2 linked regions of the Homo sapiens genome follow. The protein of the gene in region 1 interacts with the protein of each later gene in a pairwise test. Each region holds a gene or a part of one and is shown in the gene's direction. Other genes may lie near its edges.

Region 1 (10,825 bases):
TGCTTCTCCTAAACATTCTGCCAATTTCTTGTTTCTGCCAGCCTCATTCCCATTCCAAGGATTTCCCTGGTTAGTTACGTGATGCCCTCAGCTCCCACCAGACCTCTCACCCAGACCCTGCCTCCCACCAGCTCACCCTGGTGGGAGCTCAGCCACTGGGAGCTCATTCAGTTGGCTTCTGGCCTTTTTGACACACCAATATCCTTCAGTTTGTAGCAATTCCTTACTTTCTGGCACTGCAAGATGCTTCAGGCTCCTCTTACATATTTCCTACCCTAGCCCTAGACTCAGCCATTTCTCCAAGGAGCTTTGGTTCCTTTTATTGGGGAATGGTTTTAGAAACCGAGATCTGGGAGCTCAGTGTGCACACTAATGCTAGGATGTCATTGCTTTTGGGCATACTAGGCAAACAGAGCTAAGACACACACACACACACACACACAATTTTGACTCTAATCCAGTACCACAATGTTCATTCTAGCTTGCTCACTGTGACTTCTCTCTCCAACAGTGAGAAATCTGGCTCTCACTATCCATGACTCATTTATTCAACCTTAATATGCAGGTAAAGCCATCTCTGACTTGTTAGTGCATATCCCTTGGAGAAACAAATTTACCAACTATAGTACAATGTTTGTGGACAATTCCTTTTATCCTTAGCCTTTCAGTTTCTAGTCATAATATCACTTTCCAAAGTTACTTAGGCCAGTTTGTTTTTTCTCCACATGCTCCAGTGACATTATGTCATACATTTATAGTTCAGTTAGGTCATTTGTTACAAGCTGCATTCCATCCTGGGATTCTCCAGACATCTTGGTTAATTTTTAAATTTCTCATACATTAAAGATCCCCCTTCCTCATGTATGGTTCTATGGGTTTGATCAGGATACAGTCATGTAAGCACTTCCTCAGTATGATACAGAACAGTTCCATCTCCTTAAAATTCTCTCGTGCATCCTCTATGTAGTTAATCTGTCCTTTTCCTCAGCCCCTGGCAACTGCCAATCTGTTTTCCATCCCTACAGTTTTTCATTTTCTGGAATGTAATATAAACAGAACCTTTGGGGATGGCTTTTCACTAGCAAAATGCATTTAAAATCCATCCATGTTATAGTGTGAATCAATAGCTCACTTCCTTTTATTGCCAAATGATTTTCATTGTATGGATACCACAGTGTGTTCATCCATTCATCTGCTTAAAGATATCTTAGTGACTTCACTTTGGGGTAGTTATGAATAAAGCTGCTATACATATTTTTGTATGGACAAAAGTTTCAAATCAGTTGGCTAAATAGCTAGGAGCACAGTTTGCCACATTAAAGCTCAGTAAATTGTTACAAAGTAAACACACTCATCAGCTAGCACAAGCAACAGAACAGCCCTCACCCAGTCGTACATTCCCTCCTCCACAAAAGTCACAATTATCTTCACTTCTGTTGCCACACGTTAATTTTGCCTGGGTTCAAGCTTTGAATGGATCATCTGGTATGTTCTTCTTTGTGTCTGGCTTCTTTCGCTAAGTATCCTCTGTGTTGGTGCATGTGGTGGTTATTTTCATTGTTCTATATCCTTCCATTGCAAATATATATTACAGTTTTGTCTTTAGGTTTTTGCTGGTGGATGTCTGGGTTTTTCCCGGTTTGGATAATGCTATGAACATTCCTTTTTTATTTTTAGACGGAGTCTTGTTCTGTTGCCAGGCTGTAGTGCGGTGGCGCAATCTCGGCTCACTGCAACCTCTGCCTCCCAGGTTCAAGCGATCCTCCTGCCTTGGCCTCTCGAGTAGCTGGGACTACAGGTGTGTGCTACCAAGCCCAGCTAATTTTTTGTATTTTTAGTAGAGATGGGGTTTCATCATGTTGGCCAGGATGGTCTCGATCTCTTGACCTCGTGATCTGCCCTCCTTGGCCACCCAAAGTGCTGGGATTACAGGCGTGAGCCACCACGCCCAGCCAAACATTCCTATGTGCCTTTCTGTATCTACTTCTGTTGCTGGCTCATAGGTAAGTGCATGCTCAGTAATAATAGACATGCTGAACCATTTCCAAAGCATTTCTACCAATTTAGATTACCAATGGTGCCTTATGTTTTAACAGGAGCCCTCTGGCTGCTTCATTGAAAACTGACTGTTTAAGGGCAAAGGTGGGAGCAGGGAGGCCAAGGGAAAGGTTTCGCAGTCATCCATGTGTGACTGCATGGGGCACAGCCCAAAGGGGTAGCAGTGGAAGTAGTGACAAGTGGTTGGATTCTGGTTGTACTTCAAAGGTAGAGTCAACAGGAATTTTCTGATGGATTGGAAATGGAGGATAGAAAAAGCGAATAGACAAAGGTGTGTGGGAGGCATTTTGACTAATCATCTTTATGGATGGAATTGCCATCAACTGAGATTATAAGACTGCTGATGGCCGGGCGCGGTGGCTCACGCCTGTAGTCCCAGCACTTTGGGAGGCCGAGGCGGGCGGATCACGAGGTCAGGAGATCGAGACCATCCCGGCTAAAACGGTGAAACCCCGTCTCTACTAAAAATACAAAAAATTAGCCGGGCGTAGTGGCGGGCGCCTGTAGTCCCAGCTACTAGGGAGGCTGAGGCAGGAGAATGGTGTGAACCCGGGAGGCGGAGCTTGCAGTGAGCCGAGATCGCGCCACTGCACTCCAGCCTGGGCGACAGAGCGAGACTCCGTCTCAAAAAAAAAAAAAAAAAAAAAAAAAAAAAAAAAAAAAAAAAGACTGCTGAGCAGTTGGTTTGAGAGGGAAGATCCTGAGTTCTGTTTGGCACATCACTTTGGAAATGTCTATTAAATATCCAAATGGATATGTCATGGAGGCAGCTGGAGTTCAGGTTAGAGGTCTGAGTCATTGATAAAACTTTGGGAGTTGTTGGCAAATGATAGTGTATTGGTCAGAGTCTAATTAGGAAAGAGAAGCTACACAGTCATTTGAACAGGAAACATGTATATAAAGAAGTGTTAATTGCAACAGGGAAGTGGAGTAACCAGGCACAGACTAGTAGGAAGTATAGGAGGAGCAACCACTAGCCTAGGGCTGAGGTAGAGAGCCCAGGAGAGTCCTCTCCTCCTAGTGCACTGCCCCTACACCTCATCAGAGGAACCCAGCTATGGCCCTCTGCATGTCAGGAGAGTCACTGGTGCTATACCACTGGAACTTACTAGAAATACTTCTTTAGGTGCTGGGGAAAGGAGCGGTGTCTCAAAAGAGTTACTCTATAACAAAACTGCCTGGAGCTGGTGAGGGGAGTGGGACCTGCTGGGCACTGGCCACTGTGTTTCTGGAGAAGTCACCCACCTGCAGGAGCCAGGCCAGGGAGCATAGGAGAACCAGGAACAAAGACTGCTTTCGCCCACAAAGTCTCTCCATTGCTCTCTACTGACAAAACCTAACATAATGTCAGAGGAAAATATTTAAATGGCCCAGTTCCATTTTTGCAGAGCAGGCAATGAAGAATGAGTTTGTAGCAGAGATGCAATAAATTGATAACTGTATTAGTCCGTTCTCTCACTGCTATGAAGAAGTACCTGAGACTAGGCAATTTATAAGAAAAGAGGTTTAATTGGCTCACGATTCTGCAGGCTGTACAGGAAGCATGACAGCTTCTGCGGAGGCCTCAGGAAACTTTCAATCATGGTGGAAGGTGAAGGAGAAGCAGGCATGTCTTACATGGCTGGAGCAGGAAAAGGTGGTGGGGGGAGGTGCTACACACTTTTTAACAACCAGATCTTGTGAGAACTCTATCATGAGAACAGCACTAGATGAATGGTGCTAAACCTTTCATGAAGACTCTGCTCCCATGATCCAATCACCTCCCACCAGGCCCCACCTCCAACATTGGGGATTACAATTCCACACGAAATTTGGGCAGGGACAGACCCAAAACATATCAATAACTGATACAGATGGCATATAAAACTGAGACAGAATTAGATCATCCAGGGAATAAGTATAGACACAGAAGAAAAGAAAACTGAAGCCCGAAACCTATGGCCTCACTCTAATTTAAACAGGTGAGAGCAGGGGAACCAGCAAAAGCAGCTGAGAAAGAGCATCCAGGGCTGCAGGTGGAGTCCTGTGAGACAAGTGAATCAAAGTGAATAGGAGAGGGGCCAGAGTATGTATTGACTGTTCTTTTGTGAAGTTTTGCTGCAAAGGGGAACATAGAAAAGGTGCAGGTCCTGGTATAGGAAATAGGGTCGAGTAATTTCTTTGTTTTGAAGATGAGAGAAATAGCTGCATGTTATGTGACGATGAGAAGAGTCCAGTAGAAAGGAAAATATTGCTGATGTTGCAGAGAGGATAGGCTGGCTGGAGTGACACCCTGGAGCAGTAAGAGATGATGGGATCCAGCAGTCCAGTGCAGGATTCTTTGGGTGGACCTAGCAGTTGTTCATCCACAGTCACAGGGAGGCAATAAGAGGCGGATGGGTGGAGGTGGACGTGGGAGTCTGTGGAAGACTTTTACCACTTCTATTCTCTTAGCAAAGCAGGAGGCAAGGAAGGGAGAGGCAGTGGGAAGGATTGAACAGAGAGGAGGAAGTGCGAAATACTCACTTGGAACAATGGGAGATTGAATAGACCAGGCAAAGAATGATTAAAGTGAGGACGGCTGGCATGGTCCTGTTTTCCTCCAGCCATGTTTAGTTGCATCGTCGTGGCATGGAATAGATGGAGAGCTGGGTTTATCCAGGGCTCCCATCTTACCAAGCAGATAGGAGATGACAGGGAGGTGCATGAGTTGAGGAGGTGTGCAAGGGATCAATGAGAATGGTTGGCCATTGAGTTTAAGCTGGCTCACTAGAGAGGGTCATAAAGGAAGAAACAGTGAACAAGTAGTAAGATCTTGATTGGAGGTGCTGGTAAGGTTGCAGGAGTTTTGTTTCAGGGCAGTATAGGGAGTGACCTGGACAGATAGGAGGATAGATAGACCTGGTCAGAGTGGGATACTGTGGGGGTTGCAGTCCTTGGACCTGACAAGGTCTAAGGTCTGATCATGGAGGGAGGGGGAAGCTGAGGTAGGGCAGAGGACAGGAGTGGGCTTCATGAGACCAAAAGGATGTTGGAAGGATTATCTACCTGGATACTGAAATCTTCAAGAAGTAAGAGGTGTAGTGTGAAGAAGTTACAACACTCTAAGCTCTTCAGGGATAAGGGAAGCATGTGCCACGTGGGTAGCCTCCCAAGTCCAGCACCCAGTATCTAGAATATGCAGAGTGAATACCTGGGGGCTGCTGAGGGCAAGAACAAGGTGCCTGTGAGAAGACCTGACGCCTGGGGTTCTCGTGACAGGAGTGGGCCTAGTTTTTGGTGTAGAATTGAGCCTTGAATGCACCAGCGGGATCATATTGAAAAGAAACCCTCCAAGACTAAAGGAAGATGCATCCTCTGACAATGTACGCTCTGTAGGCTCCCAAGTAGCTGGGCTGGGGATTAGATGGACTCCAAGGCATTTCCTCAGGTGGCAATGGGCGGATCCCTGGGAAGGTAAAGCTGTGCAGTAAGAAAACGGCAAGATGCTACGTTCACTCAGGTAAAGCCCCTTTCCCGGGTTTAGGGAGGGCGAGGCAGTTTAGGCTGGGTCAGTTTGTCCCTGCCCTCACGGTTTGTTGGTCCTGGCAAAAGAGGGCCTTATGTTATTTATTTTTCTTAGAGACAGTGTCTTGCTCTGTTGCCCAGGCTGAAGTCCAGTGGCTCATCTCAGTTCACTGCAGACTCCGCCTCCTGGGATCAAGCGATCCTCCCACCTCAGCCTCCAGAGTAGCTGGGACCACAAGCACCACAGGCGCCCGGCACGATGCCGGCTAATTTTTTTTTTTTTTTTTTTTAAGAGAGAGAGGTAGGCTCCCTATGTTGCCCAGGCTTGTCTTGAATTCCTGGGCTCAAGCAATCCTCCCTCCTCGGCTTCCCAAAGTGTAGGGATTACAGGCGTGAGCCACTGCGCCCTGCCAAAAGAGGGCTTTAGGGCACCCCAGAACGCGAGATCCCCCTCATCTGTAATCTTTAAAGAGGAGGAAGTGTACTCCAAATCAAGCGATAGTCCATTCGTCCTTGGCACGGTGACTGCCGGGAGGCCAGGACCAAATGTGTCTCCTTCCGGCTTTTGCACCACACTAACTAACCGGCGCCAGGCCGCAGAGCCGCCCTGGCCTTCGGCGAGAACTCAGGCGAGCGCGGCGCACGCTGCTCCGGAGTCCCACCGCGGAAGTTGAGGCCGCGGATTCCGAGGGCGGGGTGGAGAGGAATCTGGAAGGACCTGGACCCGGTGGAACGCACTGCGCGGACGGCGCCTGCGTCCGCACTCAGCTGTTCAGCCCTCTTTCTTCAGGCTCTCCCCTGAAAGCCGTCCCCATGCCGGTCTCTTTTTTCTGCCTTCTTGTTTCCCTCCGGCGAGTCAGCGCGACTGTGAATTTCCGTTTCCGGCGGTGTCCATGCTGACCTGAGGAGTCGCGGCTGCGAGCAGGTTCGGTGCTGCGGGTTGGGGTAGGCGGCGGTGGGGTCCCTGGTTCTGGGGCACTGGGAAGATCGCGAGTCGTGCGTGTGGGAAGGTCCTCCCCCGGTCCTCCGGGTCATCTTTGCTCCCGAGGAGCGGCATATTTCTCATCTGGCGGAGGTGTCCTGGGGTAGTTGGGTGAGTGACGTGATGAATCCCTGCAGAGAGCCCAGACGGGGAGGGAAGGTGGCTGGGCGACGTCGTTTCCTGGCGACGTGGTCCCGGTAGGAGACTTAGACCTGAGCTGGATCTGTTGACCCCAAATTGTGCTTTTCCCACCAAGAAGAAAGACAGGGAGAGAAACATTAGTACAAGTGCTGAACTAAAATATAGCAGAGAAGAAACATAATCTCTGAAATCACACAGCTATTCGGTTTCAAAGCGTTCCTAGCGCCCAGCTCTCCTAACTCCTGGCCAGTGTTCTTGACATTATGGTAATACATAAAGACTTTGTTTCCGCTGGTGTGTGTCTGTGGGAAGCCTCTGACTCACCTCCGTGCTCCAGTAGCACCCTGTGCAGCCTTCCAATGTCGCCCTTATTGCGTGGCGCGGAAGATAATAGTTTGGATTTCCTCTGCAAGTCAGATAATAGCTGTATCCACTTACTGGCACAGTGCCTAGCACATCGTAGACAGACACAAATATTTATTCAACGGAATGAATACAGTACCTTAATTGAATGAAATGGCATCCTGCTCCGCTTTTTTTTTTTAATCAAGCTGTCAGATTTTATGCAGCCCGATTTCCTAAAATAACTCACTAATTCAGTGATTGCCAATTTATTAGCCACAGATTCCCAGGTAACTCAGAAATCACTGGAAGGGTCTCTGTAAGTTCATGGGGTCTCCAGGTGTCATCTAGAACCAGTCCTATCTCACACGTACAGCTATTTCTATTTTTCAAATGTATGTAGATAAGTTGTAATTTAGGAGTTTTACAGAGTCAACAGGTACTAAAAGTAATACTGCGATCATATTGGAGGTTCATAAAAACGTTTCACATTTTTTTATTAAAATTTAAGTTTTAGTTTAAGTTAGGAAACCACTTCATCAGTCCAGTTGATACCTGGGTCTGAGCTGTCCAGTATGGTAGCCACATGTGACTATTTGGAGTTAGAATGAAATTAATTAAAAACTCATTTTTTCAGTTTCCCTAAGTATATTGTAAGTAACCACATGTGGCTAATGGCTAAATGGCTGAAAAGTACAGATATAGTATATTTCTATCCTTGCAGAAATAGATACTGCTGATGTTGACACTTAAGATGAATAAAAAGTAACTTAACCATAAAATGTAATCTTAAGAGAGGTAACTCATCTAATTTATAGCATAACAGAGAGAAATGAAATTGGGGATGGTTAAGCAGTTTCTACCCTTGTTCAGTGAACAAATACATCATCTCTTCATAAAGAAATAAATGAAATTTACTGTTTTTCCCTGGGTATTGCCTGGATTGTAAAATGCTTCTCCCATCTCCTTACCCCAACCTTCTTCCTTGTAGGTTAGAGTTACTTGTTATTGGTAAATAGCCACTATGGAGGCTAAGGACCAGAAGAAACACAGAAAGAAAAACAGTGGACCCAAAGCTGCAAAGAAAAAGAAGCGGCTTCTGCAGGATCTCCAGCTAGGAGACGAAGAAGATGCCCGGAAGAGAAATCCCAAAGCTTTTGCAGTTCAGTCTGCTGTGCGGATGGCTCGATCCTTTCACAGGTATGTTAGGCTACGGTCTGGTCATTCTTCCATTGATTCTTTTTTTAAATAGTAGGAGCCTCTCACAGGTGACATTTGGATTCACGAGTCTAGTCCAGCTCCAAAGGACATGGAGATTCATGGTGTGTGGCTTTCACTAAAACGTGAGAAGCTTTTCCCATAGAAGCTGCCTTGCCTCCAGCATCTGCATACTGGTTAGTGTTTATTGCCCAGGATACAAGAATTTATAGACTTTGTTTGTTCCTAAATTTTAAACTGTTTCTATGGTGATAAGTGTGCTTTTTCCCCCCAGGTATGTTTTACATAGTTGTAATATAAAATACAAAAATTACAATATTTAATACTAACATAGCTTTATTTAGTGAGCCCTTGTGATATGCCTAGCAGTGTACTTTAAACATTATTCAACTAAATCCTTCCAGCAGCCTTACCAGAGTAGGAATCATTCTTGCCCTCATTTTATGGGTAAGAAAACTGAGATCAAGAAAACAAGTTACCTCCAATCATATAACCAGTAAGTAGGAGAGCTAAATGTAACTCCAGCGCCTCTGCTCTTATCTGCTATGATGTACTGCCTCGCTATTTACCTTTTGGTTTTTTAAAAAACTATTAAAATCACTCTTAAAACAGTCAGATTTAAGGAGTGTTTAATTTTCGCTCTCTATAGTATTGAAGTCATCTTGTTACATCTTTATTGAACAGCAATTATTTGGATGGGGCCAGAAGTTAGCAAGTTAATAATTGACAAGTTAATTATATTTATATATTGTCTGTTGTACTCTCTATAAAATGTGCTAAAGTACTCATAGCTATAAGTGTACCAAAAAAGTCTACTTATAAGGTTGATACCTTTTACTCTATTTTGAAAATGAGTTTACTATTTATTTATTTGTTTATTTTTTAATGAATAGGACTCAGGATTTGAAGACAAAAAAGCATCATATTCCAGTGGTTGATCGAACTCCACTAGAGCCCCCACCAATAGTGGTAGTGGTGATGGGACCTCCAAAAGTTGGAAAGAGCACTTTGATACAATGCCTCATTCGGAACTTTACCCGGCAGAAGTTGACTGAGATCAGAGGCCCTGTGACGATTGTGTCAGGTAGGAGATGCCACCACAGACACAGAGTTGGCGTGGCTGTTGTCATCTGAGGGACATGCATGCGTTTGTTGTTTTCTTGAGTGGAACATGTTAAATATTGTCATATCATGGGACTTCTCTTATACTTAGTATTACTAAGTTGGCTATAGCTTCAGAAAAGGGTAAGTTCCCAGAGATAAGGATGTGATAATGTTCACATTTCCTCCCAGCACTCTGGGAGGTTCCAAGGCAGGAAGATACTCGAACCCAGCACTCGGGCTGGAAAATCAAGCTTTGCTGCTCGATTGCGACACCAGCCACAGTCCTCTTCCTCCGTGTAGAAGGATGTGTGGTCCAGCCTCTTAAGGTGATGCTTTCCTTTTCTTCCTGGTTTCCTCCTCCATTTTTTGTATGAGAAATGATAATGTTCACTATGTCTTATCCTGACTGCTCTTTGGCTTTGCCAAACATGTTCCTTGGAAGGGCCTAGCAGGCCTAGTCACCGTGAACACATCATTTAACAGATAGCACGCACCTCCTATGTGCCAGGTGCATATGCTTGCCTTATGAAGCCACATTCTGGTGGAAGTGCGAGTTTTCTCTTTTTCCTGTGAGAATTGTCTGCTTTGGGAGATGGTGACCTTTCCGAGTTTGAGGGAAAATGAAACAAACTTCCAGTGGTAGAATGGCAATGTACACTCTGAAATCTCTTGTTATTGCAATAATATAGTTGGATTGAGGCTTTTCTTTATCTTTGGAGCATCCATATTTTCTTTTCCCTTTTTTGAGACAGAGTCTTACTCTGTGGTACAGGCTGGAGTGCAGTGGTGTGATTACGGCTCACTGCAGCCTCTACCTCCCAGGTTCAAGCATTCCTCCTACCTTAGCCTCCTGAGTAGTGTATGCCACCACGCCTGGCTAATTTTTCTTTTTTTTCCTTTTTTTTTTTTTTCTGTAGAGATGGGGTTTCCCCATATGGCCCAGGCTGGTCTCAAAACTCCTGGGCTCAAGGGATCCGCCTGCCTTGGCCTCCCAAGTTGCTGGGACTACAGGCGAGAGCTACTGTGCCCAGCCCATATTTTCTTGACTGTTTTATTTTTACCTTAATTTAGAAGTAATTATTGTTATGAATATTCTGTTGCATTATGTTTGAGGATGTTTGTAGCTCTAGTGGGAATACGGGAAGTTTTGATAGAGGCAAAGACATTGGGCCTGCAGCTGAACAGCAGGATCATGGTTATCATGGAGTCTGTGCAGTCAGAATTTTCCCTTTTTGAGCACTTTTATTCATCTGGGTAGACTTTTGATGTTATTTAAATTTAGAACACAGCAAGAAAAACAGAATGGAATTTATTTTATTTTATCAGTTTTTGCCTGTAAAAATGAACTTCTTGTATGCTCCTGTAAATGTATATGATGTTTTACTGGATGCAGTTAAAAAATGAAAATTAAGAGTTGATGGTTAGAGTTTTTTCAGGGTCTTTTTAAAGTAAAATTTTCATCTTTTCACTTATAGGTAAAAAGCGCAGACTCAC
Region 2 (10,714 bases), on another chromosome or scaffold:
TCCCGGGTTCAAGCGATTCTCATGCCGCAGCCTCCTGAGTAGCTGGGATTATAGGTGCGCACCACCATGCCTGACCAATTTTTGTAGTTTTAGTAGAGATGGGGTTTCTCTGTGTTGGCCAGGCTGGTCTCGAACTCCTGACCTTGTGATCCACCTGCCTCGGACTCCCAAAGTGCTAGAATTAGAGGCATGAGTCACCGCGCCTGGCTAGCCTCTTTTTCTTTATAAATTATCCAGTCTCAGGTATGTCTTTATTAGCAGCATGAGAACAGACTAATACAGTAAGAGGTCCAATACAATAGTAGCTGGAGACTTACCCCACTTTCAGCATTGGACAGCTCTTCCAGACATAGAATCAACAAAAAAACATCAAACTGCACTATAGACCCAATGGACGTAATAGGTATTTACACAGTATTTCATACAGTATCTACAGAATATACATTCTTTTCCTCAGCCAATGGACCATTCTCAAAGACAGACCATTTGTTAGGTTACAAAACAAGTCTTAAAACATTCTGAAAAACACTGAAATAACATCAAGCATTTTCTCTGACCACAATGCCATATAACTAGAAATCAGTAATGAGGAATTTTGGAAACACATGGAAATAAAACAGTATGCTCCTGAATGACCAGTGGGTCAGTGAGGAAGTTAAGAAATAGAAAATTTTCTTGAAACAAATGATAGTAGACATGCAACATATCGAAACCTATGGGATACAGCAAACCCAGTACTAACAGGGAAATTTATAGCTATAAGTGCCTACATCAAAAAAAGAAAAAATATTTCAAAGAAACAACCTAATGATGCATATTAAAGAACTAGAAAAGAAAGAGCAAACCAAACCCAAAATTAGTAGAAAAAAGAAATAATAAAGATCAGAGCAGAAATAAATGAATTTGAAATGAAGAAAACAAACAAAAGATCAAGAAAACAAAAAGTTGGTGTTTTGAAAACATAAACAAAATTGACAAACCTTTATCTAGACTAACTAAAAAAGAGAGAGAAGACACAAATAAATAAAATTAGAGATGAAAAAAGAGACATTACCACTGACACTGCAGAAATTCAAAGCATCATTAGTGGCTATGATGAGTGACTATATACCAACAAATTGAAAAATCTAAAAGAAAGGGATAAATTCTTGGACACATACACCCTACCAAAACTGAACTATGAAGAAATGCAAAACCTGAACAAATCAATAAGAAGTAGTGATATAGAACTAATAAAAAGTCTCCCAGCAAAGTAAAGCCCAGGACCTGATGGTTTCACTGCTGAACAAATCAATAACAAGTAATGATATAGAATTAATAAACACTCTCCCAGCAAAGTAAAGCCCAGGACCTGATGGTTTTGCTGCTGAATTCTACCAAACATTTAAAGAAGAACTAATACCAATTCTACTTACACTATTCCAAAAAATAGAGAAGAAGGGAATACTTCCAAACTCATTCTATGAGATCAGTACTACCCTGATACCAAAAACAGACAAAGACACATCAAATAAAGCAAACTTCAAGCCAATGTTTCTGATGAATACTGATCCAAAAATTCTCAATGAAACTGAATTCAACAACACATTAAAAAGATCATTCATCATGACCAAGTGTGATTCATCCCAGGGATGCAAGGGTGGTTCAACATATGCAAATTAAGTAATGTAATACATCATAGCAAGAGAATGAAGGACAAAAATGATCAAATGATCATTTCAATTGATGCTGAAAAAGCACTTGATAAAATCCAGTATCGCTTCCTCATAAAAGCCCTAACAATACTGAGTATAGAAAGACATCCCTCAATATAATAAAAGCCACATATGATATACCCACAGCTAATATCATACTGAATGGGGAAAAACTGAAAGCCTTTCATCTTTTTTTTTTTTTTTGAGACACAGTCTTGCTCTGTCACCTAGCCTGGAGTACAGTGGTGCGATCTCAGCTCGCTGCAACCTCTGCCTCCCAGATGCAAACAATTCTCATGTCTCAGCCTCACCAGTAGCTGGGATTACAGGTGCATGCTACCACACCCAAATGGAGTTTCACCGTGTTGGCCAAGCTGGTCTCAAACTCCTAGCCTTAGGTGATCTGCCCGCCTTAGCCTCCCAAAGTGCTAGGATTACAAGTGTGAGCCACCACACTGGCCACCTTTCTTCTTTGATCAGAACATGACAAGGATTCCCACTTTCACCACTCTTATTCAACATAGTACTGGAAGTTTGCAGCTACAGCAATTGGACAAGCGAAAGAAATAAAGGGGATTCAAATAGGAAATGAAGAAATTTAATTACCCTTGGGTGTGGGTGGCTCATGCCTGTAATCTCGGAACTTTGGGAGGCCGAGGCAGGCAGATTGCTTTGAGACAAGCATGGGCAACACAGTGAAATATCATCTCTACAAAAAAATTAAAAAATTAGCTGAGTGTGATGGAGCATGCCTGTACATGCCTGTAGTCCCAGCTACCAGGGAGGCTGAAGTGGGAGGATCACTTGGGCCTGGGGCGTTGAGGCTTCAGTGAGCCATGATCATGCCACTGCACTCCAGCCTGGGTGACCGAGTGAGATCCTGTCTCAAAAAAAAAAAAAAAAAAAAAGGCGGGGGGAAAGAAAAAAGAAAGAAAGAAAAGAAAGAAAAGGAAGGAAGGAAGGAAGGACGGGAGGGAGGGAGGGGAAAGAAAGAAGAAAAAATTTTCCTTGTTTTTAGATGATATAATTTTATATTTAGAAAAACCCAAAGTCCACCAAATAAATATTAGAACTAATAAACAAATTCAGTAAATTTGCAGGATACAAAATTAACACACAAAAATCAGTAGTATTTCTCTATGCCAACAATGAACAATCCAAAAAAGAAATCAAGAAAGTGATCCCATTTACAATAGCTAAAAAGAAAATAAAATACCTAGAAATGAACTTAAGAAGTGAAAGATCTCTACAATGATAACTATAAAATATTGATGTAAGATTTTGAAGAGGCCACAAAAAATAGTAAGGTATTTTATGTTGACAGGTTGGAAGAATCAACATTGGTAAAATATCCATACTACCCAAAGCAGTCTCTATTAAAATACCAATAATATTCTTCACAGATATAGAAAAAAAATCCTAAAATTTATATAAAACCACAAAAGACCCAGAATAGCCAAAGCTATCCTAAGAAAAAGAACAAAACTGGAGGAATCACATTACCTGATTTCAAATTATACTACAATTAGCTGGATGTGTTGGTGCATGCCTGTAATCTCAGCTACTCAGAAGGCTGAAACATGAGAATCGCTTGAACGTAGGAGGTGGAGGTTGCAGTGAGCTGAGATCATGCCACTGCACTCCAGCCTGGGTGACAGAGTGAGACTCTGTCTCAAAAAAAAAAAAAAAAAAAAAGAAAAATTAAAAAAAAATACTATAGTAACCAAAATGGCATGGTACTCGCATAAAAACAGACAAATGGACCAGTGGAACAGAATAGAGAACCCAAAAACAAATCTATAACCCTACAGTGAACTCATTTTCAATAAAGGTGCCAATAACATACACTGGGGAAAAAACAATCTCTTCAATAAATGGTGCTGGGAGACCTGGATATCCATATGCAGAAGAGTAAAACTAGACTGCTTTCTCTTGCCGTGTACAAAAACCAAATCAAAATGGATTAAAGACTTATATCTAAGACCTCAAACTATGAAATGGCTACAGAAAATATTGGGGAAAATCTCTAGGACATTGGTTAGGCAAAAATTTCTTGATTAATAACCCACAAGCATACGCAACCAAAGCAAAAATGGGATCATATCAAGTTAAAAAGCTTCTGCACAGCAAAGGAAACAATCAACAAACTGAAGAGACAACCCAAAGAGTGAGAAAACATATCTGCAAACTACTCATTTTGAGATATCATCTCATCCCAGTTAAGATGGCTTATATTCAAAAGACAGGCGATAACAAATACTGGTGAGGATGTGGAGAAAATGGAACCCTTGTACACTGTTGGTGGGAATGTAAATTCGTGCAACCACTATGGAGAACAGTTTGGAGGTGCCTCAAAAAACTAAAAATAGAGCTACCATATGATTCAGCAATCCCACTGCTGCGTGTATACCCAAAAGAAAGGAAATCAGCATATCAAAGAAATATCTGCACTCCCATGTTTGTTGCAGCACTCTTCACAATAGCTAAAATTTGAAAACAGTCAAAGTGTCCATCAACAGATGAATGGATAAAGAAAATGTGATACATATACACAATATAGTATTATTCAGCCATAAAAAAGAATGAAATCCTGTCATTTGCAACAACATGGATGAAACTGGAGATCATTATGTTAAGTGAAATAAGCCAGGCACAGAAAGAAAAACATCACATGTTCTCACCTATTTGTGGGATCAAACAATCAAAACAATTTAACTCATGGAAATAGAGAGTAGAAGGATGGTTACTAGAGACTGGAAAACATAGAGGGGGTGGGGATGTTGGGGGGCAGGTGGGGATAATAAATGTGTACAAAAATTAGAAAGAATAAGATCTACTATTTGATAGCACAACAAGGTGTCTGTAGTCAACAATAATTTAATTTTCATTTAAAAATAACTAAAACAGTATAATTGTTTTGTTTGTATAATAACACAAAGAATAAAATGCATGAGGGGATGAGTACCCTATCCTTCAGGATGTGATTATCACACATTGCATGCCTGTATCAAAACTTCTCCCGTACCTCATATATACATGTACCATCTACCTACAAAAATTAAAAATTAAAAAAATTATATGGAACCACAAAAGACCCAGAATAGCCAAACCTGTCCTAAGCAAAAAGAACAAAACTGGAGGAATCACATTACCTGACTTCAAATTATACTACAGAGCTAGAGTAAACAAAATGGCATGGTACTGGCATAAAAACAGACACATAGATCAGTAGAACAGAGCGGAGAACGCAGAGATAAATCCACACAGCTACGGTAAACTCATTTTCGACAAAGTTGCCAAGAACATACTCTGGGGAAAGGACAGTCTCTTCAATAAATGATGCTGAGAAAATTGGATATCCATATGCAAAAGAGTGAAACTAGATCTCTATCTCTTGCCATTTACAAAAATCAAAGAAAAATGGATTAAAGGCTGGGAGTGGTGGCTCACACTTGTGAGGCCAAGGTGGGCCAATCGCTTGAGGTTAGAAGTTTGAGACCAGCCTGGGTAACATGGCAAAAACCCATGTCTATACAAAATACAAAAATTAGCTGAGCATGGTGGTGCACACCTGTAGTTCCAGCTAATGGGGAGGCTGAGGTTGGAGGATTACTAGAACTCGGGAAGTTGAGGCTGCAGTGAGTCATGAGCATGCCACTCCACTCCACTTTATAACACACTGTTGTCTACATAAGGCTAGCTACATCCCTTAATCTTAAACTCCCACCGCTTTCAGACACTATCATACCCCGCCCCCCTTCCCCCCGCGAACCCCCGTGCATTCTGGGACTCATGGTTTGGTGAGTGTTGTCCAGGAATGGCTACAAACCCACATTACTATGATATCGGACTTCTACTTGTGTAGTCATTTGTTAGTTAACTGTACATTTTGGAAGGTTTTTGAGTAGAGAAGTGAAATAATCCAACGTTTGGGAAGATTTTCTTGTGCAGGATTGGAGGAGGACGGGAAAGAGGGAAAAAGCATTGCGCGCGTGTGTGTGTGTGAAGTTATTACAACTATCTATCTTGAAGCATGCGAGGTAGGAGGGCCTGAATTGCCATGAAACGCAATGACGATAAACGAAGGGACCCGTGAGAAAGGGGCAAAGAGGTGTCTCAATAAAATAAGCAACGGCCTGCTGTGGGAGGATTCGGGTCTCAGTATAGGCTGCCACTGTCAGCTTTGCAATATTCCTCGAGCCTTTATCCATGAGTAGGACAGGATGGCTCTACCTTGCAGGGTTACAGCATGGAGCTGCGGGACTGCGCCGGCAGTGCGCTGAGCGGCATCCCTGCGATAGGGTGAGTGCACCAACCCTTGTTGTCTCTCTTAGTAAGAAAGAGGAGGGGTAGATAATAGCATCTTCACCCCAGTAGTTGCCGTAAGTAGTAATGCTAAGAATCCGGCACGTCGTAGGCATCAATCTCAGTCCGCCATCTCCCCTTGCTACCACGCCAGGAGGTACACAGAGGAGACTGCCCCGACTGGCAACTCCCGCGCCGGGGTTCCCTGGCCATCCTCCCGCGTTCCCTCCAGCCGCGCGCTGTTGCCAGGGCCCGGGCACCGCCCAGCTCCACTACGGACCAATGGCAGCGCGGCTTGGGCACCGCCCAGCTTCAGCGGAAGCCAATGGAGGCGCGGCGCGGGCACCGCCCTGATCCGGCGCGGGCCAATAGCGGCGTGGCCCGAAGCGGGGGCCGCCCCGGTCGGGCGGGGAGGCGGGGAGGTGGCCACTGGCTCCGCCCCGCTCCCCTCTGACCCGGTGTCTAGTCTCTCCGTCTTCCTGTTCCAAACCACGTGGACGCGTCTGGGCTGCTGGAGGCAGCCCGAGCCGCCGCCGTCGGTGTCGCCGCCACCACCACCATCGGAGTCACGAGTCCCGCGTCTGTCCGAAGTCGCCGCTCTCGGGCTGCTCACGTCTCTTCGGAGAGCGCGCACATGGCGACTCAGGCGCACTCCCTCAGCTACGCAGGGTGCAACTTCTTGCGCCAACGTCTGGTCCTGTCTACCCTGAGCGGGCGCCCCGTCAAAATCCGAAAGATTCGGGCCAGAGACGACAACCCGGGCCTCCGAGGTAACTTGGTGTGGGCGGCGCGCGGCGTGGGCGCGGGGGCTGAGGGGAGACCGAGCTGATGCCGTGGGGGCCCGCGCGGTGTTGGTTGGGCGGCTCGGCGTCCGGCGAGCGCGTCGGGGAGGGCAGGTGGCGCGTCGCCTCCAAAGCCGGAGGGGCAGGCACAGTGGGGGAGGCGGGGTCGGGGCCCGAGGGGAGCGCTCAGCTGCAAGCTGCGCTCGGCGTCTCCGGGGCGCTGGTAGTAAACAGCTGCACGTTTTCCAGCTTTACGTGTAGCAACAAATCCCTGGCGTCGCCCCTTCGCGTCCCTTCGGCCCCTCTTGCCCTCGCCATAAACCTCTCAAAGGAGAAAAACAGTTTGTTGGACCGAAATATGGTGAATGAGCCGGGGGAGAGACATTGGGAGAGAAAAGTACCTTGGGTTGGTTCTCTGCCCTGTCTCAAAGCAGTTCTCAGAAGCAGCTGCCCCCTTGGACACCGGCTGTTCCTGTCGCCATGATTTCTCGGCTGCCCTCACACTTGTCCTTGGGTGTGGATAAAGAAATTTTTAAAATTCTGTGTTTGTTTTCAGCCGTGACTGTGATTGATGTGCGCAGGACAGGAGCTTTGAGATAGACTTTTAACAGTCATGGGCCTAATTGCCTTGACTTTAGAAAAGGGGTCGGTGACAATCGCTAAACTGCAGGCTTCCAAGCTCACTTCTTGCTCTGCAATGGTAGGTTAAAAAGAAATAGGCCCATTTAAACCCACATCTCATTAAATGGCGCCGGTTTTCAACTGGCCTTGGTTTACACCTGGCCCCCTGGCATGAGATACATGCATTTAAAAGCTTCTGACTGGTGGTTATCCCAAGTTGGGCGAGTCAGTAGTCAGGTGAAAAAGGAAAAAACCTGTCTGTAAATTGAAAAAGAGTGTTTGTGGTTGGTCCTGGAAGCTTCCTGAGCGGCGCTGATGTGTTTCATTTTGCACTGGCTCTTGTTTTATCTGTCTGAATGCATTTTTTGGATAGTTAGATCTCTGCCTCTCTTGGGTGGTGATTGGCTGCACATAAAGGGCAGAAGATGCCATGCTATTGACGGAGATAGGTTAGGAAGGAAAGAAGCAGAATATCCCAGGTACAGTGGTGAGAAACCTAGTGATGGTAGGAAAAACTTGTGTTGGTGGTTCCTGTCCTCTCTCTACTGCTCAAAAACACTGAGAAAGTTAGGGAGAGACCACAAATGGTTTATGCCACGACTTTTCCGTCAACAAGTGTTCCACTTAGTTTGACCCTTGGGCAAAGTGTTTGCTTGATTGCTGTGTGGCATTCTCAGCCAGCTCTCCATCCACTTTACCCTCAGGTTAGCTCAGAGAACTTGCCACTAGCTGGATATGGTAAGAAGATGGACTTCTACTTTGTATAAAAGTAGGCATAACTTTTTTTTTTTTTTCCAGAGAAATGGAAGTATAGCCTGGAAACCTGGGTTCTCTAAAATGAATCTAGTTCTATTTAGAGTTTTTCTATTGACAGGTGGCCTCCAATTTAATATTTAATGTTCCAAAGTATGCTTCTCCTTCTCCCCCTCCACTGTATGTGAGCATCTCTTCAAAGCATCTCACACATATGAGCTCCCGTTTCTTCCAAGAACAGGGCTTGGCCACTTGGCACTTTCTTGAAAGGGTGTCAGACGCTGATACCTGAGGGAGGTAGAACTGCTTGGCAGGTGTGCTGGTATTTTATGGGGAACATTACTGTAGAGCATTATTTGCCTTACCCCGTTCATATACCAGGGGAAGAAAGAGACTCCTAGTTATTTGTACATCCTTGCGCTGGCTTCAGGGCCTCAGAAACCTTGTAGATGTTTGTCTGCTTAATTTCTTTCTTTTTTTTTGAGACAGAGTCTTACTCTGTCTCCCAGGCTGGAGTGCCGTGGTGCGATCTCGGCTCACTGCAACCTCCGCCTCCTGGGTTCCTGCAATTCTCCTGCCTCAGCCTCCCTCGTAGCTGGGATTACAGGTGCCTGCCACCATGCCCAGCTAATTTTTAGTAGAGTATTTTTAGTAGAGATGGGGTTTCACCATGTTGGCCAGGCTGTATGAAACTGCTGACCTCAGGTGATCCGCCTGCCTTGGCCTCCCAGAGTGCTGGGATTACAGGTGTGAGCCGCTGCGCCCAGCCTGTCTGCTTAATTTCTTACAGAGGGAACAGAGAGATAGATATGCATTTGCAGATATACATGTATATGTGTATATGTATACACATACATGTAAGTGTATATACATATACGTGCACGCATAAATAGATGTAGTCCCTGACACATGATTTCTGGTCATAATCAAGGGAGTCCTTGGTAGCTTGATTGAAGATGTAGCCGGAAGCCTATGTTGCCCGTCATCTGTCCCTTTCTGACTTTTCCTAACTCAGATTCTCAGAGTTGGAAAAAACTCAGAGCATATCCAATAAAATCTTCAGTTCTAATGCAAGAATCACATCTCTTCAAGGTGCTTGCTTAAAACATCCCTCATGGTGTGGGCTTTGGAGGGTAGGGATAGTATGGGAGGCTTTCGGCCTCAGGAACATTTATTTAGAAAGTGTTTATTGAGCCACAGTATGTGCAAGGCTTTGTATGGGGGTGAGTGTAATATATGTGAGAAGCTGGTTGCCCCTGTTCTCATGGAGCTTGTCATGTAAGTAGGATGTTACTAAGTTTGAGTAACTTGAAGTAGGAAGGATTGAGTATTGTACAGGGGCTCAGTGGAGTTCAGAGCAGACACTTCCCTGAAAGTTACGAAGGAAGGCAGGTTTTCTGGACCTGATCTGGACAGATAGGATTGAGATGGTGGCTGCGGAAATCATTGTTTGCAAAATAAACAGTTCTTTTTTTAAAGAAATTTTATTTTAGAGTCGGGGGTACATGTGCATGTTTGTTACATGGATATATTGCCTACTGGTGGGGACTGGGCTTCTGGTGTACCCATTATCCAAATAGTGAACATCGTACCCAATAGGTAATTTTTCAATCTCCCTCAATCTTCCTCCTTTTCCAGTCCCCAATGTTTGTTATTTCCATGTTTAAGTCCATGTGTATCCATTGTTCAGCTCCCACTTATAAGTAAGAACATGGAGTATTTGATTTTCTGTTTCTGAATTAGTTCTCTTAGGATAATGGCCTCTAGCTCCATGTTGTTGCAAAGGACATTATTTCATTCTTTTTTTTGAGACAGAGTCTCACTCTGTCATGAGTGCAGTGGTGTGATCATGGCTCACTGTAGCCTCAACCTCTTGGGCTCAGGTGATCCTCTCACGTTAGCTTCCTGAGTAGCTGGAACTACAGATGTGTACCACAGCATCTAGTTGATTTTTAAAATTTTTTTTGTAGAGATGGGGTGTTGTCTATGTTGCCGAGGCTGGTCTTGAACTCCTGGACTCAAGCAGTCGTCCTGCCTCAGCCTTCCAAATTGCTGGGATTACAGGCATGAATAACCATGCCCAGCCTGATTTCATTCTTTTTTATGGCTGTGTAGTATTCCATAGTGTATATATACCACATTTTCTTTATCTAGTCAACCATTGGTGGACACTTAGGTTAGTTCCATCACTTTGGTATTGTGAATAGTGCTGCAATAAACATACAAGTACAGGTGCCTTTTTTGTATAATGATGTCTTTTCCTCTGGGTAGATACCCAGTAGTGGAATTGCTGGGCCATATGGTAGTTCTATTTTTAGTTCTTTGAGAAATCTCCATATGAAAGAAACAGTTTTTAAGTCAAAAAGTTCTTTATTTTCTTTATTTTACTGAGGTAAAATCCTTAATTTGTCATGGTCATAATACTTGGCAATTAAGAGCTTGGGGTCAGTATTGGACCTTGGTTTGAGTACGAGTTCTGCCTTTCGCTATTAGCTCTTGGTCCTTGGGCAAATTATTTTAACTATTCTCTTCTGAGCCTCAACTTTTTCACCTGTAAAG

What was found.
Region 2: the proteins of BMS1 (region 1) and RCL1 interact in binary tests that used the Homo sapiens proteins (3 or more experiments, as listed by UniProt).

What each region holds. Positions count from the first base shown.
Region 1 is NC_000010.11:42,776,362-42,787,186, forward strand, and holds the start of BMS1 (ribosome biogenesis protein BMS1 homolog), read left to right. Parts: upstream 1-6,433; 5' UTR 6,434-6,469; exon of another isoform or gene 6,470-6,637; intron 6,638-8,000; 5' UTR 8,001-8,033; coding exon 8,034-8,209; intron 8,210-9,120; coding exon 9,121-9,311; intron 9,312-10,806; coding exon 10,807-10,825. UniProt on the Homo sapiens protein: GTPase required for the synthesis of 40S ribosomal subunits and for processing of pre-ribosomal RNA (pre-rRNA) at sites A0, A1, and A2.
Region 2 is NC_000009.12:4,786,459-4,797,172, forward strand, and holds the start of RCL1 (RNA 3'-terminal phosphate cyclase-like protein), read left to right. Parts: upstream 1-6,485; 5' UTR 6,486-6,633; coding exon 6,634-6,769; intron 6,770-10,714. UniProt on the Homo sapiens protein: As part of the small subunit (SSU) processome, it plays a role in 40S-ribosomal-subunit biogenesis in the early pre-rRNA processing steps at sites A0, A1 and A2 that are required for proper maturation of the 18S RNA.